Linked DNA regions of Homo sapiens. The protein of the gene in region 2 purifies or fractionates together with the protein of the main gene of each other region. This does not show direct contact. Each region holds a gene or a part of one and is shown on either strand. Other genes may lie near its edges.

Evidence for each region.
Region 1: the proteins of TMEM259 (region 2) and TMUB2 purify together in Homo sapiens (affinity purification with mass spectrometry; 3 studies listed by BioGRID and IntAct, with this or other methods). This does not show direct contact.
Region 3: the proteins of TMEM259 (region 2) and TMUB1 purify together in Homo sapiens (affinity purification with mass spectrometry; 3 studies listed by BioGRID, with this or other methods). This does not show direct contact.
Region 4: the proteins of TMEM259 (region 2) and RNF185 purify together in Homo sapiens (affinity purification with mass spectrometry; 4 studies listed by BioGRID and IntAct, with this or other methods). This does not show direct contact.

What each region holds. Positions count from the first base shown.
Region 1 is NC_000017.11:44,183,026-44,189,974, forward strand, and holds the start of TMUB2 (transmembrane and ubiquitin-like domain-containing protein 2), read left to right. Parts: upstream 1-3,946; 5' UTR 3,947-4,084; intron 4,085-4,177; exon of another isoform or gene 4,178-4,650; 5' UTR 4,651-4,683; coding exon 4,684-4,718; intron 4,719-4,881; exon of another isoform or gene 4,882-4,976; coding exon of another isoform or gene 4,977-4,984; intron 4,985-5,909; exon of another isoform or gene 5,910-5,996; coding exon 5,997-6,563; intron 6,564-6,949.
Region 2 is NC_000019.10:1,018,119-1,025,769, forward strand, and holds the start of TMEM259 (membralin), read right to left. Parts: upstream 3,006-7,651; 5' UTR 2,879-3,005; coding exon 2,654-2,878; intron 1-2,653. UniProt on the Homo sapiens protein: May have a role in the ERAD pathway required for clearance of misfolded proteins in the endoplasmic reticulum (ER). Promotes survival of motor neurons, probably by protecting against ER stress.
Region 3 is NC_000007.14:151,080,585-151,088,097, forward strand, and holds TMUB1 (transmembrane and ubiquitin-like domain-containing protein 1), read right to left. Parts: upstream 2,910-7,513; 5' UTR 2,850-2,909; intron 2,436-2,849; exon of another isoform or gene 2,180-2,435; intron 2,010-2,179; 5' UTR 1,980-2,009; coding exon 1,591-1,979; intron 1,317-1,590; coding exon 965-1,316; 3' UTR 501-964; downstream 1-500. Other genes in the region: FASTK (fas-activated serine/threonine kinase), read right to left, coding at 101-182. UniProt on the Homo sapiens protein: Involved in sterol-regulated ubiquitination and degradation of HMG-CoA reductase HMGCR. Involved in positive regulation of AMPA-selective glutamate receptor GRIA2 recycling to the cell surface.
Region 4 is NC_000022.11:31,156,080-31,163,196, reverse strand, and holds the start of RNF185 (E3 ubiquitin-protein ligase RNF185), read right to left. Parts: upstream 3,016-7,117; 5' UTR 2,894-3,015; intron 1-2,893. UniProt on the Homo sapiens protein: E3 ubiquitin-protein ligase that regulates selective mitochondrial autophagy by mediating 'Lys-63'-linked polyubiquitination of BNIP1.

The DNA.
Region 1 (6,949 bases), on a different chromosome or scaffold from region 2:
AGCTGAGGTCACAGCAAGCTGAGATTGTGCCACTGCACTCCAGCCTGGGCGACAGAGTGAGACCCCGTCTCAAAAAAAAATAAAAAAATGAATAAAAATAACAGAAACACAAAGCCTCTCATAGACCCAGAACCTATAGTACCTATCACAGGAGGGAACTGGGGAGGAGCTCCCAGCAGTCTTCTCCTGAGTCAGCAGTCTTTTTGCTGAGGGATCCTAGGGTCTCCAGTCCCAATACCAGTTGGAGTTATACAGTGGAGACAGGGATCCAAAGTCCTGGGGTCTGCCTCCTGCTGCAGCTGCCCAACTTTCCCTCCTCCAGGAGAGTTATATCTTTGGGATTCCATTTCATCAACACAAAGACAGTTTTTTCACCTTGTTATGCAGAATGCAACACCCCCTTTCTGGATGAAAATTTGTGCTTTAGTTTTACAGAGCCAAAAGGCCTGACAGAAGAAAAAGAACTCCTCCCTAGAGAGGGAGGCTGGGAGCCTCACTCTCAGGGGCAATGCTGAACTTTCTACCCCTTTACAGCACGCCGACCACAGCCAGCTCAGCCTTTTCTGATATATTTACAACTACAAAAGATACCGTTAAAAAAGAAAAATACCTGGGTGCAGTGGCTTACGCCTGTAATCCCAGCACTTGGGGAGGCCGAGGCGGGTGGATCGCCTGAGGTCAGGAGTTCAAGACCAGCCTGGCTGACATTGTGAAACCCTTTCTCTACTAAAAATACAAAAAGTAGGCCAGGCGCGATAGCTCACGCCTATAATCCCAGCACTTTCGGAGGCCGAGGCAGGCAGATCACCTGAGGCCAGGAGTTCGAGACCAGCCTGGCCAACATGGTGAAACCCTTCCCTACTAAAAATACAAAAATTAGCCAGGTGTGGTGGCACACACATATACTCCCAGCTATTCAGTAGGTTGAGGCAGGAGAATCACTTGAACCTGGGAGGCGGAAGTTGCAGTGAGCTGAGATCTCCCACTGCACTCCAGCCTGGGTGACAGCAAAACTCGTCTCCAAAAAAAAAAAAAAAAAAATCAGGATACAAGGCCAGGTGTGCAAATCCTGTTGGTGGACAAATCGCCTCTTTGGGGGCAATTTGGCCACTTCCTTAAACACTGTTCCCAGTTACACAAAAGGCAGGCTACATACAGGAATATTCCTCTCAGCGTTGCTTGCAACAACTCATGTTGGAGTGGTTAGACAAATCCATATTACCCATGGCAGGAAAGAACTAGGGAGGGATTCCAAGTGACCAGCATGTGTACTGCCTTGGGAAGATCTCCCAGAGTGGTTTTTATTGATTGATTGAAACGGGGTCTTTCTGTATGCCAGGCTGGAGTGCAGTGACGCAATCACAGCTCACTGTAGCCTTGACCTCCTAGGCTCCAATGATTCTCCCACCTCAGCCTCCCAAGTAGCTGGGACTACAGGCACACACCGCCAGGCCTGGCTAATTTTTAAATTTTTTGTAGCGACAGGGTCTCGCAATGTTGCCCATGCTGGTTTCAAACTCCTGGACTCAAGTGATCCTCCCACCTTAGCCTCCCCAAGTGCTGCAATTACACTCTAGAGCCACCATGCTCAGCTGAAGACAATTATTTTCCTTTACATTTTTTTTTATTTTGAGACGGAGTCTCACTCTGTCTCCCAGGTTGGAGCATAGTGGCGCGATCACAGCTCTCTGCAATCTTGACCCTAGGGTCAAGCAATCATCCCACCTCAGCCTCCTGAGTAGCTGGCTCATGGCTCACTGCAGCCTTAACCTCCTAGGGTCAATCATCCCACTTCAGCCTCCTGAGTAGCTGGGACCACAGGCACACGCCACCATGCCCAGCTAATTAATTTTTTTTTAGAGATGGGGGTCTCACCATATTGCCCAGGCTGGTCTTGAACTCCTGGCTCAAGGGATCCTCCTGCCTCAGCCTCCCAAAGTGCTGGGATTACAAGTATGAGCCACTGTGCCCGGCTTTGTGAATGTACTTAATGCCACTGAATTGCAAACTTAAAAATAGTTAAAATGGTTTTAAGTTTTATGTTACGTATATGTATATATTTATCTTTAGAGATAGAGGTCTCCCTGTGTTGCCCAGGCTGGCCTTTAACTCCTGGGCTCAAGTGACACTGCTGAGTCAGCCTTCAGAGTAGCTGGGACTACAGGTGCATGCCACTGTGCCTAGCTATGTTTATTTTACCACAATGAAAGGACTTACAAAAAAGAAGCTAGACACCGAAGAGGATACACAGTTGGATTCCATTTATAGCAAGTACAAAAACAGGAAAAACTAATGTATGGTGACAGACGTCAGAATAGTGATTACTCTTTGGAGGTTAATGGCTAGAAGAAGACATGAAGGGGGAGATTCTGGGGTAATTCTTTCTTTTTTTTTTTTTTCCTGAGACAGAGTCTCGCTCTGTCACCCCAGCTGGCGTGCAGTGGCTCCATCTCAGCTCACTGCAACCTCCGCCTCCCAGGTTCAAGCCATTCTCCTGCCTCAGCCTTCTGAGTAGCCAGGATTACAGGCGTGCGCCACCACGCCCGGCTAATTTTTGTATTTTTAGTAGAGACGGGATTTCACCATGTTACCCAGGCTGGTCTTGAACTCCTGACCTTGTGATCCGCCTGCCTTAGCCTCCTAACGTGTTGGGATTACAGGCGTGAGCCACCGCGCCAGTCCTAATTATCTATTTCTTGATCTAAGTGCTACTTCTGCCAGTGTTCAGTTGGTAGAAGCCACCGAGCTTTTTGCTTATGTTTGCCCCTGTCTGGATTATTTATCCTTTAATCAGTAGTTCTCCAAAACCCCAAACTCCAGCGCTTTTTTTTTTTTTTTTGGAGACAAGGCCTCCCTGTCGGGTGCAATGCAGTGGCTCAGATCATAGCTCACTGCAGCCTCGAACTCCTGAGCTCAAGCGATCCTCCCACCTCTGCCTCCCAAAGCGGTGGGATTACAAGAGTAAGCCACTCCCCCCGGCCACAGTAAGTTTTTAGAAAAAATTTTAATTGCGGCCGAGCGCGGTAGCTCACGCCTGTAATGCCAGCACTTTGGGAGGCCGAGACGGGGGCGGATCACCTGAGGTCGGGAGTTCGAGACCAGCCTGACCAACATGGAGAAACCCTGTCTCTACTAAAATACAAAATTAGCGGGGCGTGGTGGCGCATGCCTGTAATCCCAGCTACTCGGCAGGCTGAGGCAAAAGAATCGCTTGAACCCGGGGGGGCGGAGGTTGCAGTGAGCCGAGATCGCGCCATTGCACTCCAGCCTGGGCAACAAGAGCGGAACTCCCGTCTCAAAAAAGAAAAAATTTTAACTGCAAAAATCTGGATAAGTTCTTGAAAGCTGGACTTTTCCCCCTTTTTGTGTCCTAAGCCTGCGCCGAATCTGTGCCTTCTTTGAAATGCTTTCCCGCCTTCTTTCTCCGGGTCCCACACTACCTGGGGCCGCACTCTTCAAGCACTGGATGCTGACTAACTGGTCTCCTTATCTGTCTTCCCGACTGGCCCAGAGCTGAGTTCTTACTAATCCCCGCTAACCTGGAGTTAGGTGCGCGTTGCAAAGCAGTAACGAATCCAATCAGCCGGGGAGGCAGACAGCAGGGCCGGAAGAACAAAGCTGGAAAGGGAAACGTCGCACCGGCTCTGCCCAGCGGCGCCAGCCCGGGCAACCTTCCGCAGTCGCGAAGCCACGCCCCTTTCCCAAGTACCTCCGCGCTAACTCCTCCCCCCTGGCCCCGCCTCTCACCCTGGATTGCCTAAGGCCCCGCCCACCAGGCGTGGCCCCGCTCTGGGAGGGCCGCAATCCCGCCAACAATGACTCCACCCCTCCTTCCGCTGAGAAACCTGTCCCTTTTATTTAAAGAATACCTTTTACGTCAGCCCGTCTTACGCAGCTTCGCGTCATCAGTGCAAGGCGCGGAGGCGGGACTTCCTGTCCCTGGTATAACAGCTTCCGGGAGAAGCCGGAAGAGACCGGACCCTGAACAGAATCGCAGATTGCCAGCCCTTTTCCCGACCCCTACGGAAAGACGAGTCCAGGGGCCGTCCTGGCGAGGTCAAAACATTTAGTCTGGTCTTTTCAGGTGAGGACTTCCCCATCCAGGCACAGTGCCGGTCCAATCCCCCTTTAATTTCCCATGACTCCTCGCGTCCTGAAGCCCCGCCCCCAGTTCCCCAGCCCCGCCCCGAAGTTTGAGGGGTGTGGACGGTTTGTGACCCCCTTAGCCGACCCTACTCCTCACTGGCCGGGACAACTGGTCTTATCACGGAGGCTGGGGCCAGGCAGCCCTTCGGTTCGGGTGGGCCCATGGACCCCAGTCCAACGCCGAGGGAATAGGACCATCCAAAAGCGGAACCTTCGCCTCAGAAAAAGGGTGCGGGACCCCTCCTCACCGTGCGGTCACGGTACGGACAGGGTAGATCACAGGCTGAGGGACAGAGCAAAGACCCCTGAGGCCGGACACCTGGGGTCCTGCCGGGCCCCTCCCCACGAGAGTTCCCTGTGTCTGTGCCAATCGTTTTCGTCTTTCTTTGCCGCAGTTTCTTTTCCTGTAAATCATGGTTAATAACATTAACCTTCTTACCATCAGGGGTTAGTTGTGGTTGTGATAAATAATTACTACCGTTATTAAGCAATTGCAATTTGCAGTGTGCCAGGCACTGTGCCAAGTATTTTGCTTCGATGATTTCACGTCATCTTCAAAACAACCTCATGAGGTAGGTACTGTTTTTAACCCCATTTTACTGATGAGAAAGCTGAGGCTCTGAGAAAGTTGTCTGAGGTGTTATAGCTAGTAAGACGCAAGACTGGGGTTATAATTAGTTGTTTTTCTAACTCCAGGGCCGGTATATTAAATAAGGATGTTGATGTGTTCCACAGATAATTCTTTGAGCAACTACTGGGGCATTATATTGGACACTTCAGTACCAAGAGAAATACATACGATCCTTGTCTACCAGGAGTCTAATAGAAAGATGGACAGGTACATAAGTATAATGAAGTTTTATAGGTGCTGTGAGAATAGTCTGATAATGGTAATCACCAGACTGGATTTGCCCAGGGACAGCTGTGAAAGCAGCAGATTCTCCAAGGGAAATAGTAGGTACTCCAAGGAGCAAGCAGGGACCCTTCCTGCCTTTCTAAGAAACTGCAGCAGCAGAACCTTCACAGTGAAAGAAGAGAGACTGAGATATGGATTGTGAGAGCTGTTATGGAATCTTTTTCAAATCACTCCACTTGGGGAGTGGTCATTGCAGGAGTGGGCCCATGGTGACCCAGGAAGGTGGTGCTTCTGGTGTCTGTCCCAAGTTGCTCCCCAGGGCTTGCCAGAAGTTTCAGAGGCGGCACATAATGTCTGCTGCATAGTATCTGCCCGCGGTCCCTACAGAGTTATCGTTTTAGATTTGTCTGACTCTGCTTTTGATGGTAGGTCAGTTTTCTTTGGCTCTTGACATCTGGCAGCCTGGATCTGTGACCAGGAATGAAATAGGCTCAAATGAGACAATCTGGCAGGGATGGCTAAACAGTGCTTCCAGGGGGGCCCCACAGTAAAATATTCCAGGCTTTTGGGTCTCTCTGAAGCCACTTTGGAGGCTGCTTAGGAGGCATATTTGCTTGACCAAGCGATAGAAATCCTAGAGAAACTCAGGCCTCAGCAAAGATTTTTCCTCATTCACCAAAAAAGCAACAACAGTAGCAGCAGCAGCAAGGCTGTGGGCTTTTCCTGCTGATCCACACTCATTGGGAAGTTGGAGTTTGAGAGAGGAAGGTCACAGAACGTGAAAGCAAGAGTTTCACAATAGAGGCAAAGGGTAGGGTAGGTCTTTAGGTTTAGGTTGGGGTGCCGGAATTAGGAAGGTTTGTGCCCCCTTCTACACAACACTGAACTCCTTTTTTTTTTTTTTCAGGGCTGGGTCAGTTAGAACCTAAACAAACTAGAGACCTGGTTGCAACCCCTCAGGCTCTGCTGATGCTGTCCCCCTTTGTTCCTGCAGCGTGGACCCTGCCAGCAGCCAGGCCATGGAGCTCTCTGATGTCACCCTCATTGAGGGTGTGGGTAATGAGGTGATGGTGGTGGCAGGTGTGGTGGTGCTGATTCTAGCCTTGGTCCTAGCTTGGCTCTCTACCTACGTAGCAGACAGCGGTAGCAACCAGCTCCTGGGCGCTATTGTGTCAGCAGGCGACACATCCGTCCTCCACCTGGGGCATGTGGACCACCTGGTGGCAGGCCAAGGCAACCCCGAGCCAACTGAACTCCCCCATCCATCAGAGGGTAATGATGAGAAGGCTGAAGAGGCGGGTGAAGGTCGGGGAGACTCCACTGGGGAGGCTGGAGCTGGGGGTGGTGTTGAGCCCAGCCTTGAGCATCTCCTTGACATCCAAGGCCTGCCCAAAAGACAAGCAGGTGCAGGCAGCAGCAGTCCAGAGGCCCCCCTGAGATCTGAGGATAGCACCTGCCTCCCTCCCAGCCCTGGCCTCATCACTGTGCGGCTCAAATTCCTCAATGATACCGAGGAGCTGGCTGTGGCTAGGCCAGAGGATACCGTGGGTGCCCTGAAGAGGTGAGTGGCCTGGGAAGTGGGAAGCTGCTTGTGCTCATCCCCCAGCCCTTGGTTGCCTCTAAGGAGGCTGGTGCAGACATGGGAGCTGCAGCAAAGTGTAAGATCCAGCCCCTACCAAGGGCAGGTAGATACTTTCTTAGAAATACACCCTTCAGGCCGGGTGCAGTGGCTCCCGGGACTTTGGGAGGCCGAGGCGGGTGCATCACGAGGTTAGGAGTTCGAGACCAGCCTGACCAACATGGTGAAACCCCATCTCTACTAAACATACAAAAATCAGCCGGGCGTGGTGGCGCACGCCTGCAATCCCAGCTACTCAGGAGGCTGAGGCAGGAGAATCGCTTGAACCCAGGAGGTGGAGGTTGCAGTGAGCCGAGATTGCGCCACTG
Region 2 (7,651 bases):
CTGGGTCCAGAGCCCAACCGCACAGGTGCAGGCACCCAGTGCCCCAAGATGGACAGTCTCTGCCACACTGGGCTCAGGGCCATGAAGGCCAGCAGAGGTGGATACTGAGGCTGGATGGAGGTCTCCCGAGGGCCCCTGGAACACAGGCCCCTGCCGCCTCCTCTCTCCCCAGCACCTGGCACTGCCTGGCATTTCCTAAAGCCACCCAGGCATGGATGAGGGACCGGGGGGCTCCATGCTGGCTCAGAGCTGGGAGATCCTGGCATTTCCTAAAGCCACCCAGGCATGGGTGAGAGCTGGGGGACTCCATGCCAGCTCAGGGCTGGGAGCTCAGCTGCACAGATGCCACAGGATGAAGCCACCTTGAAGGGATCATACCAGGGAGGACCTGGCTCTCTGCAGGGAGACCCCCGGAAGCCAGGCAGGCAGGAAGCAGAGGAGCCTTCTGGAACTCAAGGCAGCCTCTGAAATCAGGCAGTTCCAGCCTGCACTTTGCAGATAAGTAAAAGTGAAGGCAGCAGGGTCAGATTCTGTGCCACCAGATTACCGGGTGGAAAATTCACAAAGAACAGATTTCCCCACCCAGGCCAGGCATGGTGGCTCACGCCTGTAATCCCAGCCTTTTGGGAGGCCGAGGCGGGCAGATCACCTGAAATCAGCAGTTTGAGACCAGCCTAGCCAACATGGCAAAACCCAGTCTCTACTAAAAAGACAAAAAAATTAGCCGGTTGTGATGGTGGGCACCGGTAATCCTAGCTACTCCGCAGGCTGAGGCAGAAGAATTGCTTGAACCCAGGAGGTGGAGTTTGCAGTGAGCCGAGATCAAACCACTGCACTCCAGCCTGGGTGACAGAGCAAGACTCCATCTCAAAAAAAAAAAAAAAAAAATTCACCACCCAGAGATCTCACAGTCCAAAGCCCTCTGCTGAGAGAGGAGGGATTGGGGTTACTGAGAACCTCCCAAGAGTCTCCACCCTACACAGAAGACGGGGAACTCCAGCTCTGGCCCAGCCCCATCTGACCACCTGTGAGTGGTATTGGCCTGGAGATGGAGCCGGGTAGGCTTGATCCCTTTCCAAACCGGGACATGGTGGGACCAGGGCCCAGGCGACAGGGATGCACCTCCCAAGGAGGCTGAGCTCCGTCGGGGGAACCTGGCCTGGCACCCAGCACACACCCTCCACAAGCCTAAGGACACAGTGGCTCCATCCTGTTCCCAGGCTACTCCATGGAAGGAAAACCCACGTCCACAGACCAGCCTCCGTCCACAGTTTCAGGCCCCGTCTGTGGACCCCAGAGCCGGGAAAGGCCGCCTGCCTGCGTAACCCTTCACAGCCCTGCTCAGGTGCCTACTGAGGCGACCATGCCACTCTGGGGGGCTGCAGGGAGGAAGGTGGGAAGGATGATGGGCTGAGCTCTGGCCTGGGGAGGCACGGATCTGGAGGCTGGGGGGCCTTCCGTGAAGTGGCAGCAGGCTGGGACCCACACCCAGGTCCGCAGGACGGCCAAGGTCCAGCTCCACTTGCCGAGCCCAAAAAAGCAGCCAGCTCCTGACCAACCTGTGTCAGGCTGGGAACTTGCCCACGATCGCAGCCTGGCCCGCCAGCATCGGACCCCTCTTTGCAGGCTAGATCCAAAAAGCTCACGGCGCAACTTCAGCAGCCCCCAAGCCCCGGCGCGGCGGTGTTCTGATGCAGAACGAAAACGGCCACGTCCCCATTTCGCCAGGTGGCCCAGGACCCCGGCCAGCTTGTTTTCTGAGGGGCTGCAGCTGCTACTGAGCCCCTCTTGTCACCCAAGCAAGACTCCTTCTCAGAGGGAGTCAGGCCGATGCCTGTCCTGCACGGCTGAGACCTCTGCCATCTGAGGAGGGCGGGAGGGGGACAGAGCCCAAGACGCGGAGGCCGGTGCCTCATAGGGGAGGCACGGGCGACAGACCCACAACCTGAGCTCCTGAAGCAGGAAGGGAGTGGGGACCCAGCGGAGGAAGAGGCCGGGGATGGGGTGGTACGCTGCTGCCGGTGACTTTGCCGCTAACCCTAGCGAGGTGACCTCAGCTAAGTCACATTCCCCTGAGGCTCAGGAGCGGGGAACGCAGCTGAAAGGCTACAAGGAGGGAGAGAGGGGAGTGGGGAGTCGACTTCCAGGACAGGGGTTGGTCCGAGGGAGACCTGCGTCAGGCTGGGTTCTGGGCCAGCACATTGGGAGGGGAGAGAGGCCTCGGAACTGAGGGTCTCAGGCGGCACAGTCAGGGGTCAAAGGGCGGGAGGTGCTACCTCGCAGGCCAGGACCGGACTCCAAGCCTGGGTAGGTGGGGACCTGGGAAAGGCGGTCGCCGGGGACAGGATGGGCCCTGGAGGGAGCTGACAGTGAGGTTTCCAGAGTAGAGAACAGCGGCTTCTAGTGCAGCGGGATCCGGCCTTCCCGGGTGGACGTCCCCGGGCGGGATGGGGTCACGAGACGGTGTCCCTGGCCAATCCCAGGGTCAGAGGTCGCGAGGGAGAGCCCTAATCGGTAGGGCCGGGTATAGGCCTCAGGGTGCAGGGTGGCGCTCGCTGTCCCCAGCGGGGCCAGGGGTCGCGGTCGGAGGTAGCAGACTTGGGGGTCGGGACAGCCGCTGGGGTCAAGGGTCGGGGGTCGGGGCCGCGGTCACCTTGAGCAGCACGAAGAACTCGAAGAGACGGCGGAAGGCGGGCGGGAAGAGCCGCGAATAGGTGACAGCCATCTTGAAGAACAGCGCGTGGAAGAGCCGGTCGCGCACGTTGATGAGGGGGTTGGGGTTGAGATTGGGGGTGCGAGGCCCGCGCGCGGGGGCCGGGCCGCCGCCGCCGCCGTTGGGCCCGGGCCCCGGAGCTGCGGGCTCCACGTGCTCCGACATGCCTCCCAGCGTCGCGCCCTAACGACCCGCAAGTGTCCGAGGGCGCCTCCCGGCCGCCATCGGCCGCCCTCGCAGCCGCCGCTCTCCTCACGGCCTCCCGGCCGCCGCCGCCATCTTCCGCTTTCTCGTCCGGCTGCGGCGCTGCTGACGCTAGCGAGTCGCCACGCCGGGCAAGAGCGGCCCCCCTGCGCCCGCAGAGAACGCTGGGATGCCAGCGGCGCCCGCGGAGGCCTCACCCCCTACCTCGGCCGCTCCAGGGGGCGGGCCTGCATCTGGGCCACCTCTTTTGCATATTGGCACCCACAATCCACCGCGGCTATGAGGCCAGTATAAGGCGGTAAAATTACGATAAGATATGGGATTTTACGTGATCGAAGACATCAAAGTAAGCGTAAGCACGAAAGTTGTTCTGCAACATACCACTGTAGGAAATTATGCTAAATATGAAACCGACCATAAGTTATCCTAACCAAAAGATGATTTGATTGAAGGGCTTAAAATAGGTGTGACAGTAACCCTTGAGTCGTGCTCGCTTCGGCAGCACATATACTAAAATTGGAACGATACAGAGAAGATTAGCATGGCCCCTGCGCAAGGATGACACGCAAATTCGTGAAGCGTTCCATATTTTTGCTGTAGTCTACAGCTCGTCACCTCGTTTGGCTTCTCTTGCCCGGATCCTGCCATGACGTCACAGGGCCAGTAACGTCATAGTCTTCCCGTGTCCATCTCCTGTGGCGCCACTAAGGTTGGCGGTAGAACAATCTGGCAGTCTCTACTCCTGCGTGGCGCTGTGCCACCTGCCCCCGTAGCTTCGCGCAGCAATGAATAAATAAGTGCTCTTCAGGGGCACTTACTGAGTGCCGGCTGCGTACACAAGAGGATACTATGGTTTTTGGGTTTTTTGGTTGTTTGTTTGAGATGGATTCTCGCTCTGTCGCCCAGGCTGGAGCGCAGAAGCGCGATCTCGGCTCTCTGCAACCCCCGCCTCCCGGGTTCAAGCCATTCTCCTGCCTCAGCCTCCCAAGTAGCTGGGATTACAGGCATGCGCCACCACTCCAGGCTAATTTTATATTTTTAGTAGAGACGGTTTCTCCATGTTGGTCAGGCTGGTCTCGAACTCCTAACTTTAGGTGATTTGCCCGCCTAGGCCTCCCAAAGTGCTGGGATTACAGGTGTGACCCACCAAGCCCGCCAAAAAAAAGTTTTGTGTTGTTTTTTTTTTTTGAGACGCAGTCTCACTCTGTCGCCCAGGCTGGAGTGCAGTGGCGTGATCTCGGCTCACTGCAACCTCCGCCTCTTGGGTTCAAGCAATTCTCTGCCTCAGCCTCCTGAATAGCTGGGATTGCAGGCTTCCGCCACCACACCCGGCTATTTTTTTTGTATTTTTAGTGGAGACCAGGTTTGATCATCTTGGCCAGGTTGGTATTGAACTCCTGACCTCGTGATCCACCCGCGTCAGCCTCCCAAAGTGCTGGAGTTACAGGCATGAGCCACCGCGCCCGGCCCCCCCAAAAAAATGTTTTTAAAAGTTAACTGAGGACGTTGGTGCATGCCTGTAATTCCAGCTACTTGGGAGGCTGAGGTGGGAGGACTGCTTGAGCCCAGGAGTTGGAGGCTGCAGTGAGCCATGATCGTATCCCTGCGCTCCAGGTTGGATGACTAAGTGAGACCCTGTCTCTAAAAAATAAAGTGTAAAAAAGCCAACAGTCAGTATTTTTAGCTTTTTTGGGTAGAGTAACTACTCCACTCTGCTGTTGTACAGAAAACGCAGCCGTAAATGATACATAAATGGATGGGCACAGCTGTGTGCCAATAAAGCTTTGTCTGCAGACACTGGAATTTGAATGTTATGTAATTTCCACGTTTGATAGAATGGTTTTCATATTTTGGGTTTTTTTTTCAACCACTTAAAAATGTAAGAGCCATTCTTAGCTCACAAGCCATACAAAAATAGGCTGCAGCTGGATTTGGCCCACAGGTCAAGAACACAGCTTTCCAAGAGAAAGATAAGCAAATAACAAACATAACTTTAAGTGTTCTGGTAGCCACAGTAAAACAACTAAAAAAGAGCAAGTGAAATTAATTTTAATAATATATTTTACACATCTCAAGTTATCCAAACAAGGTCAGGCGCGGTGGCTCATGCCTGTAATCTCAGCACTTTTGGAGGCTGAGGCGGGAGGATCATTTCAGCCCAGGTGTTCAAGACCAGCCTGGGCAATATAATGAGATCCTGTCTCTACGAAAAATACCAAAAATTAGCTGGGCACGGTGGTGTGTGCCTGTGGTCCCAGCTACTTGGGAGGCTGAGGCAAGAGGATTGCTTAAGCCAAGGAGTTGGAGGCTGCAGTGAGCTGTGATGGCACCATTGCACTCCAGCCTGGGCAACAGAGCAAGACCCCACCTCATAAACGAAAAAAAAGTGGCCGGGCGCGGTGGCTGACACCTGTAATCCCAGCACTTGGGAGGCCGAGGCGGGCGGATCACGAGGTCAGGAGATCGAGACCACCCTGGCAAACACGGTGAAACCCTGTCTCTACTAAAAATACAAAAATATTAGCTGGGTGTGGTGGCGGGCGCCTGTAGTCCCAGCTGCTCGGGAGGCTGAGGCAGAAGAATGGCCTGAACCCGGGAGGCGGAGCTTGCAGTGAGCCGAGATCACGCCACTGCACCCCAGCCTGGGTGACAGAGCGAGACTACTTCTCAAAAAAAAAAAAAAAAAAAAAGTAACTGAGATGTACCAAGTCTTCAGAATCTGGTGTGTTTCCCATCCATGGGGTGTTCCAATATGGATACCAGTGCTTCCTCAGAAATACTTATCTCCACAGTATTTAGATTTACAGCGTTTATACTGAAAAGGAAAATTCAGAAACGCTAAGGTATTTAAAATATACACGAGGCTGAGCACGGTGGCTCACGCCTGCAATCCCAGCACTTTGGGAGGCTGAGGCGGGAGGATCACTTGAATCCAGACTGGGCAACATAGGGAGACCCCATCTCTACAAAAAATTTAAAAATTAGCTAGGCATATGGCACATGCCTGTAGTCCCAGATACTCAGGAGGCTGAGGCAGGAGATTACTTGAGTCCAGGAGGTCGAGGCTGCAGTGAACTATATTTGCACCACTGCACTCCAGCCTGGGTGACAGAGCAAGACCCTGTTTCAAATATCTATATATTTACATTTATATGTATAATGTGTACATATGTGTGTATTTATGTATTTGAAAACTTTAATGTGTGTGTACATATATATATAGTCAAAAACGGAAATCATGTCAGTTTTTAATTTTTAACTGAAATTAATTGAAATAGCCCGGCCACGGCAGCTGACACCTATAATCCCAGCACTTCGGAAGGCTGAGGCCGGCGGATCACTTGAGGTCAGGAGTTCAAGACCAGCCTGGCCAACATGGTGAAACCCGCATCTCTACTAAAAATGCAAAAATTAGCCAGGCGTGGTGGTGCGTGTCTACGGTCCCAGCTACTCGGAGTCCCAGCTACATATATATGTGTATTTATATATATGTGTCTTCAAAAAATGGAATCTAGTGCCAGTTTTTAATTTTTAATTGAAATTTAAGAATAGGAAGTATTTGCTGGGTGCGGTGGCTCACACCTGTAATCCCAGCACTTTGGGAGGCTGAGGCGGGCAGATCACGAGGTCAGGAGATCGAGACCATCCTGGATAACACAGTGAAACCCCGTCTCTACTAAAAATACAAAAATTAGCTGGGTGTGGAGGTGTGCCTGTAGTCCCAGCTGCTGGGGAGGCTGAGGCAGGAGAATGGCGTGAACCCAGGAGGTGGAGCTTGCAGTGAGCCAAGATTGCGCCACTGCACTCCAGCCTGGGTGACAGAGCGAGACTCCGTCTCAAAAAATAATAATAAAATAAAATAAAAAGAACATGAAGTATTTGCTTCCCTGATGGCACCAGCCACACTTCCAGTGCTCAGTAGCCCCATGGCCAGTGGCTACAGTAGTAGATAGTGCCACATTGAAAATTTCCTTCATCTCAGAATAACAGAAATGGTCAGCACTGGTCTAAAATGACATGGGTCGGCCAGGTGCAGTGGTTCAAGCCTGTAATCACAGTACTTTGGGAGGCTGAGGCGGGTGGATCACCTGAGGTCAGGGGTTCGAGACCAGCCTGGCCAACATGGTGAAACCCCATCTCTACTAAAAATAAAATAAAATAAAATAAAATAAAATAAAATAAAATAAAATAAAATAAAATGTGTCAAACTCCTATTGATGCTTCAAAACCCCATCTCCCTTGCCTCCTCTTACATGCAGCTTTCCTTGATTCCTCCGACAGAGCCCCAACTCTCCCTCCAGTTCCTCCAGCCCCAAGCCTCTCATTCTGTCCTGTACTTGCTCATATAGGGAAACAGGGTGGGCGGGGTGGGGGGGTTCCGCCTGTGCTGGCTCATACAGGGAATCCGGGTTGGGGGTTGGTCTGTGCCAGCTCTGTCTTCCTGGGCATGGGCTGGGCCAGAGCTAAGGTCTCCTGAGAGCCAGCACTGCCTGGCAGGAGACTGTCCCGGAGACTTTTTAATAATTTATTATTATTAGGGTTTTTTTGTGTTTTTTTTTTTTGTTTTTTTTTTTAAGACGGAGTCTTGCTCTGTCGCCCAGGCTGGAGTGCAGTGGCGCGATCTCGACTTACTACAACCTCCGCCTCCTGGCTTCAAGTGATCCTCCCACCTCAGCCTCCTCAGTAGCTGGAATTACAGGCATGTGCCCCCATGCCCGGCTAATTTTTGTATTT
Region 3 (7,513 bases), on a different chromosome or scaffold from region 2:
CACCCACCCCGGCCCAGGGACGCCAGGAGACCGTGGCCGCTGCCGCTAACACCAGCTCCCGCTGCCCTCCCGCAGCCCTCCCCGCAGGCGCCACCCCTACATGACTCCCCGGGCCCTGCGCAGGTCGCTCCCTCAGTCGGTCTCGGGGCCCGGGGGCCGGGTTCCCCCCGCGGCCTCCTCATCGGCTAGCCACCGAGTCCGCCATCTTCCCAGCAGCCCCTAGATAGCCGCCCGGACGCCAATCCCGAAGCAGCTATCGGTCTTCGGAGACGTGGCTCCCGGCAGGCACTGCGAGCCAGGGAGCCGCGAGCCCCGCCCGCGGGAAGTGCGCGCCCGGCGCCGAGGGCGGGGCCACGGAGGCCGGCGCCAAAGCCAGAGCAGAACGCTGGGGAGAAGGGAAGGCGGAGGGCCAGACCCCAGGCGCAGTCCGTGCCCTTCTCTCCCAAGGGGCGAGGACTCCCCGCCCGCCAGCCCGCACACACTCAGACACACTGCAAGAGTGAAAACTTCACAGTTACTTTAATCTGCACGGGTTCCGGGGAACTCCTCTGCCCCTCCCCGCTCCCCTTCACCAGCCTCCCACCGACCTGGCGTCCCCAACTCAGCCCAAGGAGCTGTCAGGGATTGGAGGCGGCTGGGTCCTCCGGCAGAACACTAAGACGGGCCCCCGGGGCGGCCCGGCTCTGCCCGGGGCCGAGGCAGCGACAGCAGATGCCCGACCCCGAGGAGCCCACTCCCAGTGCGGGCTGAGGGTCAGCAGCCCCGGGAGGTGGCCCCGAGCCCCGGCGGTCGCAGGGCGGGGCCTCCGCCAGTCCCGGGAGTCCTCTGCGGCGCAGGGCTGGGCTCCAGGGCGGCGGGAAGAGGCAGGCCGGAGAGGCGGGCCTGGGCAGGCAGCAGCTCCCGCCGCGGCGCGGGGAGCAAGGTCCGGAGGGGCCGGCGACGCTGCCAAGCGCCCGCGGAGGCACTACGGGCGGTACATGGCAAAGGCCAGGAGACTGAGGAGCAGGGTGAAGCCGGCCAGGCCCAGAGTGGCGGTCAGGGGAAAGAAGGGCCGGTACTGGATCTGGCAGTACCAGAGCAGCAGCAACAGCAGGAGCAGCAGGGGCAGCAGCAGGCTGCCGATTTCCAGCCCGGAGGGGCCGGGCTCGGACCCCGGCGGGCAGGGGGGATTTGGGGGACCGACTCTCGTGGACACGTGGCAGTGGAGAACGCAGTTGGGAGGGAGGTGAAGGCTGCCCAGGGTCTGGGTGTCGTCGCCTAGCAGCTGCCCTTGGTAGATGAGTCGCACCTGCTGTTCCCGGCCGGGAAACTGGGTCCTGAGGAGAGAGGGACCTGGGTAAGAGAGCAGGCCTCAGGCAATCCTAGTCCCTGGCCCCGGAACAGCACTCCCACCCTCCCCCTGCCCTCCACAACACACCGGCCCTGGCCTGGGAGGGGCCGTCTGCCAGGGGAACAAGTACAGTTGTGATCTGGGGCGCTCAGCGCCTCCAGTATAAAGGAGGGCTGGGTCTTAGGTGTCTCTGGGGGCCTTCTGCGACCACTCTCCCAACCCCTGTCTTTAGCATTGCTCCTGCCTCTTGACCTACTTACCTTTTCAAGGAGCCAATGGTGTCGTGGGGCCAGGCCCTGGCCACCTGCTCTGAATCATTGAGGAATTTCAGCCGTAGCACGAGGGGCTCCTGCGGGGAGTCCGGGGCTGGCGGTGTTGCTGTGAACCCCGTGCTGGGCTCTGGCTGTGCAGCTTGACCTCTGTGTCTCAGGCTGGGGGTCTCTGCCCCTGGGGCCTCCCCTCTCATGCTGTCGGTAGCTGCCATGGCTGCGCTGGGCTGGGATGGCGTTGGGGTCCCTGACGGCTGGGGCAGTGGGTCCCCGCCCTCAGCGGTGTGCGTTGAGACCCAGGCAAGGGCCAGCACCAGAAGGCAGGCAAGCACCGAGAAAAGGACGGTCACCTCATCACCCACCCCTTCAATCAGGGTCATGGCGCCTGCCTTGCCCGCCGCGCTACCGAGCTGGAGAGGCACAAAGAGCCCGTGAGGCCCGGGCCCCCTGGCCAGGAGCCCTGGAACCTCCACAGGGTCCTGCCCTCACCCCACCGCGACGCTCCCACCGTCCTCAGCCTCCGTCCCCTCACCCACCCCAGGGTACCGGCTTCTCTGCCTCCCAGTCGCCCCAAACTTGCCTCCGGGTGCCCCTTCCCATCGCCGAATCCCAAGTCCTAACTTTCTGTCATCTGAGCTCGAGGTCTTCAACCAGCTCCCAACTCACCCAAACCCTATCCCAAGGTAAGGGCCTAAGCAACGCCTCTCCTAAACTTCACCCCAACCAAACTTCACCCCCAAGCGTATCTATTCTCCTGCCCACTTCACCCCAGTGTGTCTACTCCTTCACCGACTTCACCCCAGGCTCATCTACTCCGCTGCTAAAGTTTCTAAGAGGTGGGGGTAGAGCCTCTGTGCCCCCACCCCCGCCCCCCGCGTTACGGTTCACCTAAACCCCACCCGCGGCACAGGACTGCTTCCCAGGCTTCCCCCACAGCAAACGTCAAACTCCGCCCCTGGGCAATCTGGAGCCACCGAGCGTCACCACCCACCCAGCTCGGCCCCCTCCAGGTCCCCTCAACCCCACTCCGCGGAGGACTAACTCCGCGCCTCCTCTGGAAGTCTCTCCAAGCCCCCCGGGCTGCCTGACCCCAGATCCCGCCCGGAATCCGAGACTTCACGTTCCCCACCCCCACCTCTCATCACCCCTCCCACCTTCCCGCCCCCCGAAGCCGCAGGAGGGCACGGCGATCCCGGCCCGACCGGGGCCCTGGGCGGCGGGGTGGGCGCGGTCACGGCGCGGGGACTCACCGCCCGGCTCCCCCAGCTCCATCGCGGCCCCTCGGGCACTTCCGGGCGGGAGGCGCGGAGGTCGCAGGCACCTGAAGCACCCCTCCTTCCCCGCCGCCGCGGCCCGGGGCATTGTGGAACTTGTAGTCCGGCGCCGCGCTGTCCCCGCCCTCCGCCCTGCGGACCCACGTGTGGGGCTCCACCCGCGGTTCTCTGCGCCTGCAGATCGCGAAGGGGCTGGCGGGGGCGGTTTTGGGGGTTGTGCTACCCCCTAGAGGTTTGGGCGGCAGCAGCGTCCGCCCCCTCCCCTGCCAACAGCCAGGGCATCTATCACACCAGACACCGACGTCAGCTGGAGCACGTCAGAGTACCCGTGTTCGTGATGCAGTGTGGAAGGCTCTGAGGAACTCAGGTGGCCCCTACTGTTATGTCAGAGTGGACGCCAGAAGGCACTTTGGCCACCAAAATTAATTCTTCAGCCCAGAGCCCAATATCCATGGGCTGCCCCACCAGGCTGGCTAGGGATACCCATCCTCAGGGCTGCCCCTTTCCTTGGTCCCCTCCTCCACCTTCGGGACTCCACAGCCCCTTCAGGGCTGTGGAAGAAGCATAGACCTTGGAACCTGGCAGAAATCCTGATCCCTTATCTTGTGCTTCTCAGCTATATGACCTTGGGTGGGTTATTGAATCTCTCTGAACATTAATTTCTTCCTCTCTAAAACACACCTCGTAAGTCAATCATAAGGAAGAAATTAGATGTTTTATTAAAAAGTGTAAAAACTAAGGTACATGTCACACAGTAGCTATTCGCTCACCTCCACCCAAACCTGGTCTCAGGAGTCGGGTCTTTGGTGTGTTACTGTGTGGATGGCATTGAATCCCAGGCCTGTGGATATCTGGATTTTTCCCTCTGGGCTCCTGTAGCCACAGAGATCTCACATCCTGGTTTTTACAGGCCAGTCTTGATTTAAAATAATCTATCCTAGTCTTCCCATGGTTCTTGCCTACTGTGGGAGCAAGTGGCCCAAATATTGCCTTAGGAATGTCAGTCTAGATTGATACCATACAGAACTAACCTACCTCTAGTTCCATCCCTCCTGTTCATTCATTTATTCTACTAACATATTTTTTAAAAGATGTACTATGGCCAGGCGCAGTGGCTCACGCCTGTAATCCTGGCACTTTGGGAGCCAAGGCAGGCGGATCACTGAGTTCGAGACCAGCCTGGCCAACATGGTAAAACCCTGTCTCTACAAAAAAAAATACAAAAATTAGCTGGGCGTGGTGGCGGGCGCCTGTAATCCCAGCTACTCGGGAGGCTGAGGCAGGAGAATCATTTGAATGCGGGAGGTGGAGGTTGCAGTGAGCTGAGATCGAGTCACTGCACTCCAGCCTGGGTGACAGAGTGAGACTCCGTCTCAAAAAAAATTACACACACACACACACACACACACACACACACACACACACACACTATATCCCAGGCATTGTGCAAGATACTGGGAATAAAATGGTGAATCAGACCCTCTTCCTGCCCTCATGTGGCTCCATATACTAGTAGAAGAGCTAGACGTGTGAACAGCCCAACAGTGCTATAACACGTGTGTGCTAGTTGCTGGGGCAACACATTTGAGGAGCTCTTTGCTCTTAGTGTCTCTCTTGGGAGGTATACCTGGTGCTACTTCCTGCTGTCAATTCTAATTAAGCACCTAAAAGAGATGTTGGATGTTACTTTTAGAATTATACAACATCAGAACTAGGTTTTATGTTCAACCACTATATTTCGCAGATGAAACCCAGAGAGGGCACAAGATATCCTTAAGCTTATGCAGGGAGATAGAAACACAGGTTCCTCAGGAGCTTAGGAGACCCTGTGTGTTGATTAGCTTGCACCAGGTGCTTTGGAAGGTACAAGGAACTCGGGAATAGTGACTGGGTTGGTTCTGGGGCTGAGTTGTGTGGGTAATCAAACAGTGGACAGCTTCATGCTGGGAAAAGATCCAGCTTGGCCAGGGAAGTGGAAGTGTGCGTAAGAAGGACGATGTGTGTCACTGATGCCCTAGGATATCTGGGGGTAGCAGATACCCTGCAACATCTCTGGCAGATTTATTGGCTGCGGCCTCTGCAAATGTCACCTCTTGTAGGTTTTAGGAAACGTGTGTGTGTTGGTGGGGGGGAGGGGGCTAACAGAACTGCAGCCCACTTTGGCAATGGGACTGCAGAGGAACTGGGACATTTCAGGGAGCTCCCTGGCCCTAGAGGGAGTGAAAGGACAGGATGGACAAGGGGTGAGGACAAGAAAAATTGAGAGCCACGTGGGCTTTGGTTGGTCTCTCCAATGGGATGAGTAGGGGAGAAAGGCATATACTATTTCATCCCTCCCTCTTCTTCCTCTATGTACCAATGGGGTCGGGTAGCATTTAGCTAATCTCCCAAGTCCGGCAGGGGGAGGGTCTTTTAGGAGAGCACTGCTGCAGCCGGCAGTGGAGAGCCTGGGCAGGGAGACAGGGAGAAAACTCCGGCAGCAGGGTGGTCTCTAGGGCTGACCTCGGAGCCTGGGGACAGGGGAGCCTATGCCGCACTGAAGGCGGGACGCTGTAAGCGAGGAGCAGCTGGGCCTGGGCGGACTCCTCGGCCAATCAGCCTCGGTCAGCAGCACCCTCAGGCGCAGGGCACTGTTTGGGCATTGCCTAGAGATCCGACACCCCGCCCAGATCAGCGCAGGGAGGCGAAAGCGACAGCCGGGCGCGGGAGGAGACCAGGGCAGCTGTCCCCTCCGCGAGGGTGGCCCTCGAGGCAATGCGGGTGGGGGCTGGTGAGGAGGCGGAAGGGCCGAGGCTGAGTGGGAGGGGCCGGGGCGCCAGGGCTGGAGCGCGCGGCTCGGGGGTGGAGGCTGCAGAGCCAGCGAGCGAGCGAGGGGCGGGGGCGCCCGGGCCGGCGCGCAGGAGGGGCGGGGGCGGCGGGGAGGGGGGCTCGGGCTGCGTGTGCCGGAGCCGGCGGGGGCGGCGGTGCGTGCGCATGACGCGGGGGGAGGGCCTGGGCCGCGCGCTCCCGGTCCCGTTGTTGTTGCCGCTGGAGGCTGCTCCGAGGCAGCGGGATCACGGCGCTGGGAAGCGCTCGGCAGCGGCGGCCACAGCGTGCGCGGCGGCGCCTCCTGGCCTCGGCCTCCGGCCCCCGGCCCCCGGCTCCATGCGCTAGCCCCGCGCCGCCAGCCCAGTAGTCCCGGCCCCGCCAGCCCCGCGCTCCCGCTCGCCGCTGCCGCCGCCGCCGCCGCCGCCGCCTCCGCCGCGCCGCCCCGGGCCCGCCTCGGGCCCCACGGCTCCGAAGCCATGAACTTCCAGGCGGGCGGGGGGCAGAGCCCGCAGCAGCAGCAGAGCCTGGCGGCTCCGGGGGGCGGCGGCGCTGCCGCGCAGCAGCTCGTCTGCGGCGGGCAGTTCGGCGGCGCGGGGCCCGGGGCCGGGGGCGGCGGCGGCCCCTCGCAGCAGCTGGCCGGCGGGCCCCCCCAGCAGTTCGCGCTCTCCAACTCCGCGGCCATCCGGGCCGAGATCCAGCGCTTCGAGTCCGTGCATCCCAATATCTACGCCATCTACGACCTGATCGAGCGCATCGAGGATTTGGCGCTGCAGAACCAGATCCGGGAGCACGTCATCTCCATCGAGGGTGAGCGGAGCCGGGGGCTGCGGGAGCCGGGGCGCAGTGGCCTCTCCGGCGCCGGCCGAGGGCTCCACAGGCCGTGCCTGGCCATGCTCTCCCTGTCGGGGGTCCTTGCGCGCTTGAGGACCAGGCCACGAGGTTTGCCGATCTGTGTTGCAGAACCGGCGGGCAGCTTCGCCATATCTCGTTCGGGGACACTTTGGGGTTGGGGGTTTTCTGCTGACTGTGTTCCAGGGCGCGAAGGTGGTGTCGCTTGGGGGGGCCGGGACCAGATCTGTCCAGGCCTGGCCGGGGAAGGTGGGCGCGGCAGAGGGCTTCAGCTGCGGGGAGGTGGGGTCGTGACCGGGGAGGCTTCTTAGCCGCTGCCCGGGCCCTGCTCCGCAGTGGGGCGGGGGATCGGAGCCTCGCGTTAGTGGATGGCAGCCTTCCCGGGCCCAGCGCCCGCAGGCCCGGAGGGTGGCGCTCGCCGCGGCGCCCTCTCCCGACGCACACCCCCTACGCCGCGGCGGCCAAGCGGGAGCGGGCCGGGCCTGGCGCTGGGCTGAGGCTCAGCGACCGCGTGGGAGGCGCCGGCAGGTCCATCCGCGCTTTGGCCGGGTCATGAGCCTGACGGGGATCCGCGGCTCCTCGGTCTGGAGGCAGCTGCTGGGCAGCCGGGTGCTGACCGACCGCCAGGGACACCGCACCCGGAGTCGGGGACCGGAAACCCCCGGCCACTGCGCTGCCTAGCGCTTTTTTCTCTGGGCCCTTAGGCCCTGGACTTTCGACCGCTGAGGGCACAGGAAGTGGTGGCACGCTGCTGGCAGATGCCTCGCAAGCCCTGGTGTGGTGGGTGCTGGAGGCACCCGCAGGCACCCCGGTGGCATGGTGACCTTCGAGCGGGCACGGACAGATGGGCCTCACCCTGGGCCATCTGCTTCCTCCCCCAGCTCTGTTTGAAAGGGGACGCCCACCGGCAGGTGGTGGGTTTGGCCTCAGTGGAAATGCAGTGAGAGCCAAGGCCTTTTGCGATAACATGGAGTTATGGGCAG
Region 4 (7,117 bases), on a different chromosome or scaffold from region 2:
AATATGTAAATATATATGAATATAAATAAATGGGTGTGACTGAAATGAACACTGAAATTTTATCTTCCTGTAATTGTCACCTATGTAATATTATTCTTCTTTTATTTCCCATCATTTAAAAATGTAAAAAGCAGGCCAGACGTGGTGGCTCACGCCTGTAATCCCAGCACCTTGGGAGGCTGAGGCGGGCAGATCACGAGGTCAGGAGATCAAGACCATCCTGGCTAACACAGTGAAACCCTACCTCTACTAAAAATACAAAAAATTAGCCAGTCATCGGGGTGGGCGCCTGTAGTCCCAGCTATTCGGGAGGCTGAGGCAGGAGAATGGCATGAACCCAGGAGGCGGAGCTTGCAGTGAGCTGAGATGGAGCCACTGCATTCCAGCCTGGGCAACAGAGCGAGACTCCGTCTTAAAAAAAAAAAAAAAAGAAAGAAAAATGTAAAAAGCACCCTTAGCTCACAGACCATATAAACAAGCAGTAGGTCCAGGTTTGGTTCACAGCCTATATATAGTATGCAGATCCCCACTCTAGGTCAGAATTTGCTAACGTGTGCTTCAATTAAAAAAAAAAAAAAGATTTGACATCAAGTAGATTAAACAAATGGAACAAGTTATTATCTTGGCTTATAAGGCACATTTCCTTATTGCAGGACCTCTCAGTGGTTTTAATGTGGTATTACACATTGAGAAGCTCCAAGAAAGAATAATGGTATGTGGCTTTCTCAAACTTATTATTAGCATCAAATCCTTTTTTCAGAGCCACTTCTTCAGACCAGTGGCCTGAAGAACATACTTATGAGAATGTCAATTCAGACACTTCTTTAAAAGGAAACTTTTAGATCGAGAAGTTCTAAAAACTCCAACAAATTAAGATCATTTTACCCAGTACCTGGATAACATCTGAATAAGCATTTCACAACTTTTTTATTTTTTAATCTTGGGAAACACAAGTCGATAACTGGCAGGAAGTTTTGGCTCAACCCTAACTTTTGTGGCGGCGGGGGAGCAAGTCAGCAGAACTGGGTCATAATATGGAGCCTCTGCTCCCTAAGACAACATAAACATTCCTAAGCATTCTAGCAGGTGTTGAAAAAGTGATTTAGGCAGAGCTTTGTAATGCACAAAATAAGGACATAATAATGTTTGATTAGAAAACCAAAGGTATGCTAGAGGCCAGGCACAGTGGCTTACACCTGAAATCCCAGCACTTTGGGAGGCTGAGGCAGGCGGATCACTTGAGGTCAGGAGTTCGAGACCAGCCTGGCCAACATGGTGAAACCCCATCTCTACTAAATACTCAAAAAAAAAAAAAAAAAAGCTGGAACTTGTCATGTGTGTGAACTGGCAAGTCAAGTCTATAAGAGGACTGTTTTTATATGATGCATGGAAAGCTAGCCAACAGACTGCAAAAATTCTCTCACATCTATACACATATTGCTGAAGAGAGGATTCAAGCAGGGATTATGTTCCAGGGAAGAGAAGGCTGGTCTGAACAACCTCAAGGGGTGCTTTCAACTGAGAGTCCTCAATTTTGTGATTCAGAGTTCACTGGCTTCTCCTGGTCAAACATAAAATCTTCAGAGGCATTTCCAACTTGTTCTTAGAAAAAAGCTACTAACCCATGGGGTGGGACCCAGTTTACTTATTCATTCAATAAACATTTAAGGTGCCTCTATCAGATATTGGGTCATTCCAAAGTCCTTGAAAAGAAGGATGGTGCACAGGACAACCAGGAAGAGATTATGTAAGGTCAGATGCATTGGCCTTATTTACAGGAGATGTAGGCTAAAGTGATGGAAGTGTCAAAAGAGAAGAAAAAAGTCACATTTGCCTTGAGAGCAGAGTCAGCACCAGAAAGATGCAGAACAACTCCTTGGAATCACAGACTTTCAAGTTGGAAAGGACCTTCATCTAATACCTATATACCTCCCTCGAAAGGAGGCACGGAGGCAATCCATTCACTCCATCGGTGGTCACCTCTGACGATTCTTCCATTTAAGTTCTTCTATTAAGCAAAAATCTTGCCTTCCTGTAGAATTCACCTGTTAGTCCTAGTTCTGCCTCTTTTAGCCTAAAGATGAAGTGGAAGCCCTCTTTGCCGTAACAGTATTTTCAATTTTTAAAAAGTTAATTCCCTTCCAGTGCTCTCTTTACTGAGCTAACCATTCCAGTTCTTTCAAAGTTCCTGAACTGGCACCAGCTGCCTCAAAGCGAAGAATGGATATCTAGTGCTCACAGCAGGAAAGCACTTAAAATCAATGAGCTTCAAACATTAGTATATACAGGACCCCCCTACGCATAAGTTCAGATTCTAAACCAGAAGTCTGAATTGAGTCCCGCGCTGTAAAGCCGGCATCTCAGAGAATTACAAAGCAGATGGTGTAAGAACCATATTTTGAAAAACACTGCCCCGTTTTAGAGACGAGAAAACTGAGGCCCAGCACAGGGAAGAGATTTGGCCCAGAACGCACAATTGTCTGTCGGTGGCGAAGTCTCGAATCCAGGTCTCTTACTTTCAGCCCAACTCTGTTCACCGCGCTCCCCGGCCTCTGCTTCTCCACTCAGGGCAAACTCGTGAAATGCACTCCCAGATGATAGAGGCGGTCTCGCACGGGGGATAGAATGGGAATCAGTGCCCATGCCTCGAAAGGAGAGCTTGTGGGAGCCCTTCTCTTTCGCAAGGCCTCAGTTTCCCCAATCTGTATTCATGGGACGCAGAACCACAACGCCAGCTCGTCCTCTTTTCGGGGACAGACACGACCGGTCTTGCTGTCTCTGGGCCCCTGGGCTCAGATGTTCAAGCCCGTGTGTCCTGGGAAGGCGGACCCGGGTCTCCCGCCCCCGTCCCTAAACTTTGGCGCCCCCGCCCCAACCCCAGCCCCTCACATACCTGCCTCCGCACAGTTAACGCCAGCCCAGTCAATCAGTTTTTCGGGTACACGGCCAATACTAACGCCGCGTCAATCTGTTGGGTAAGACCTCCGACCCCTCCTACGCGGACTCCAGTCACATGACGCGGAGCCGCCCCTCTCGGAGGGACTTCCGGCCCCAACCGGAAGAGGTTAATTTCCATGGCTGAAGCTCTAAGGTTCCGCCTGCGGGCAGGAAGCGGAGGAACCTTGGAGCTTCGGCAGCTTTTCAAAGAGCTTTGGGTTCGGGGCTCCTAAAAGAAAAAAACTGATTCCGGCCGGGCGCGGTGGCTCCCACCTGTAATTCCAGCAGTTTGGGAGGCCGCGGCGGATGGATCACTTGAGGTCAGGAGTTCGAGACCAGCCTGGCCAAAATGGTGAAACCCCTCTGTACTCAAAATACAAAAAGTAGCCGGTCGTGGTGGCGCACACCTGTAATCCCAGCTACTCGGGAGGCTGAGGCAGGATAATCGCTTGAACCCGGGAGGCGGAGGTTGCAGTGAGCTGAGATCGCACCACTGCACTCTAGCCTGGGCGTCAGAGTGAGACTCCGTCAAAAAAAAAAAAAAAAAAGAGAGAGAGAAAGAACTAACTCATTCCGGAAAGTACCAGATAAACTTGGAACATCTTGTTACACCAGAATATAAGGATGATGGTAATAAGAATCATGGGAATGTGTCAAAGAACACAGGAGCTGTCTTTAAGGAGATCTTACTGGCCAAGTCAGGGCAATTTCAGAATCAAAATATGGAGTGATAGTAATAGAGTATAACTAATTGAATAAAATAGTAATCCATGAGTCTTTACAAACATAAAGAAGTGAGCATATTAATGGGTGAAGGGAAAGTCTTCCTTTTAGTAGAATGCTAGCTAATAAACATGGTGGAATTAGGAAATCAATAATGTGTGGTAAAACTAGAGAAACGGGATGTTTACAACAGCAAAAGTGTCTCCCATAAATTAGCTATTGATTACAAAGGGAAAATGGTGATGTTACAGAGGTTTAACCTAGCAGAACAAACAGATCAAAGTGATCAAAGTTAACACCACTAGTTAATGGGTCAGATCAAGGGCCTCCTAATAAAATGCACTGAGAACACATCTGTGGTATTTCTGTCAAAAGTGCACCGTACACATCTCATGAGGAAGTGCTAGAGAACCCCAAATGAAGGACACTGTCTACAAAATAACTCATTGTCATGAAAAACAGAGAAAAGCTGAGGAACTGTTCCAGTTTAAAGGAGACTAAAGAAGCATGACAACAAAATGTGGTGTGTGATTCTAAATAGGACCCTGGACTGGGGTAGTGGTGGTGGTGGAATAGTTGTAATGGACAATATTGGGACAAGTAATGAAATTTGAATATGGATTGTGGATTAGCTGTTAATACATATTGTATCAAATCACATACTGATAGGTGATGGAGCTTGTGATTTGCACTCAAGCAGTCATTGGAGTTCTTGACAGCCATCTTCATTCATTCAACAAGCATTTATTAAGTACCTACAGTTATCCCAGGAACGGTTAGGGATCGGACCTGAGTAGGAGGTGAACATAGTAGATAAAGGCCGGCGCGGTGGCTCACGCCTATAATACCAGCACTTTGGGAGGTCGAGGCAGGCAGATCACCTGAGGTTAGGAGTTCGAGACCAGCCTGGCCAACATGGTGAAACTCATCTCTACTAAAAATACAAAAATTAGCCAGGCGTGGTGGCGGGCACCTGTAATCCCGGCTACTTGGGAGGCTGAGGCTGGAGAATTGCCTGAACCCAGGAGACAGAGGTTATAGTGAGCCAAGATCGTGCCATTGCACTCCAGCCTGGGCGACAAGAGTGAAACTCCATCTCAGAAAAAAAAATAAAAAATAGTAGATGAAATAAGCTCATAGATGAAAGTCCTAGTCTGCCAGCCACCTTTGCAAGTTCCTGTGATCAAGAAGTAATACAAGGGATGTTTCCAGTCACACAAACCTGGATTTGAAACCAAGCGCTAAGAGAAAAACAGCCCCTGACATCCAGGAGATGGTCTGGCACTCACAAATAGACCTTGGTGTGTTCTCTTATTGAACATAAAAACTTCACAGAACATCAACATCAAACAAAGCCACTATGTGACCATGATGGATCAAGACAATAACAAAACCACTTGAATCATGTCTAAACCCAGACAAAACATGAGCATTGTTCGAACTACAAAAATGGCCAAACATTTCCCTATTCTGGCTTGTATAGAGATTATAGATTTAGCCTCGGTCTACTCTTCCCTCCTTCTAAATAATGTTTATCAAGGTACTCACTCATAGGCAGCATCCAATCCAGAAAACCCCATTTTCTTAAGCCCTCGTCCAAATCACCTAATGCAAGCCCAAATCCTATGTGTCCTTTGTAACACTTTGTTACTGAGATGCCCCTTTGTTTGTTTGTTTGTTTGTTTGTTTGTTTTTGAGACAGAGTATCACTCTATCACTCAGGCTGGAGTGCAGTGGTGTGATCTCGGCTCACTGCAGCCTCTGCCTCCTGGGTTCAAGTGATTCTTCTGCCTCAGCCTCCCAAGTAGCTGGGATTACAGGCGCCCACCATCACTCCCGGCTAATTTTTGTATTTTTAGTAGGGACAGGGTTTCACCATGTTGGCCAGGCTGGTCTCGAACTCCTGACCTAAGGTGTTCCTCCCACCTTGGGCTTCTACAGTGCTGGGATTACAGATGTGAACCACCAAGCCCAGCTGCCCTATTGTTTCTCATGATTCATGTCCTCTCACCCTTACCCCATAACAAGTGATAAACTCAACTTGTTTAACCACAGGTGTGTTCCAATTTCTTCCTTCCTCAAAAAGTTGTTATGAGGATACTCGGAACAGGTTCATCACAGAGTGAGCTTTCTCTATCAATCGATCCATTATCTATTTTTTATTTTTTTAAAAAAACATGGTCTCAGCCTGTGGTCCAGACTGGAGTGCAGTGGCACACCATCCTAACTCACTGCAGGCTTCAACTCCTGGGCTCAAGTGATCCTCCCACCTCAGTCTCCTGAATAACTGTGACTACAGGCACGCACCACACCCAGCTAATATTTTTTATTTTTCTGTAGAGACAGGGTCCTGCTGTTGCCCAAGCTGGTCTCAAACTCCTGGCCTCAAGGGATCCTCCCAGTTTGGTCTCCCAAAGTGTTGGGATTACAGGCATGAGCCACCTCACCCAATGCTTTCAATATACTTTTAAAAATTATACATATATTTTTGAGACAGCACCTCACTCTGTCACTCAGATTGGAGTACAGTGATGCCATCTTGACTCACCTCAACCTCCGCCTCCCTAGCTCAAGCGATTCTCCTGTCTCAGCCTCCTGAGTATCTGGGATTACAGGTGCATGCCACTACCACCCAGCTAATTTTTGTATTTTTAGTAGAGATGGGATTTCACCATGTTGGCCAGGCTGCTCTCGAACTCCTGACTTCAGGTGATTTGCCCTCCTCAGCCTCCCAAAGTGTTGGGATTACAGGCGTGAGCCACCACGTTTCCCCCTCAGCTTGCATTGTTTCTGGGAGAACCTGCACCATACCTTTATCTATAGCTTTCCCCCAGGTCTTAAGAAGCACGAAGTTTTAACTGTGGACACGGGATTTGGTGAAGCAGCAATCACGACTGTGGGCACGAGTAGCAAGGCTGCAGCAGCACATTGACTATAGAATGAAATGCATCCTACAGGAAGGCACAATCTTCTTTGGCATCTTTAAGGCGTTTGACAAGCATGTGAATTTGATCCTCTGCGATTGTGATGAGTTCAGAAAGATCAAGCCAAAGAACGTGAAGCAACCAGAGCTCGAAGAAAAGCACTTTTGGGGTCTGGTGTTGCTGCATGGGGAGAACTTGGTATCCATGACTGTGGAGGGGCTACCCCCAAAATATACTGGCATTGCTCGGGTACCACTTGCTGGAGCTGCAGGAGGCCCTGGAGTTGTTAGGGCAGCTGGTAGAGGAGTATCAGCTGGTGTACCAATTCCCCAGGCTCCTGGTGGATTAGCAGGCCCCGTCCCAGGAGTTGGGGGACCATCCCAGCAGGTAATGACTCCACAGAGAAGAGCATTACTGGAGCCCCAACACAGTACCCACCAGGACCGGGGGCTCCACCCCCACCTGTTGGCAGAGCAGCCCCACCTCTAGGCATTATGTTTCCTCCACCTGGTATGAAACCACCCATGGGCCCA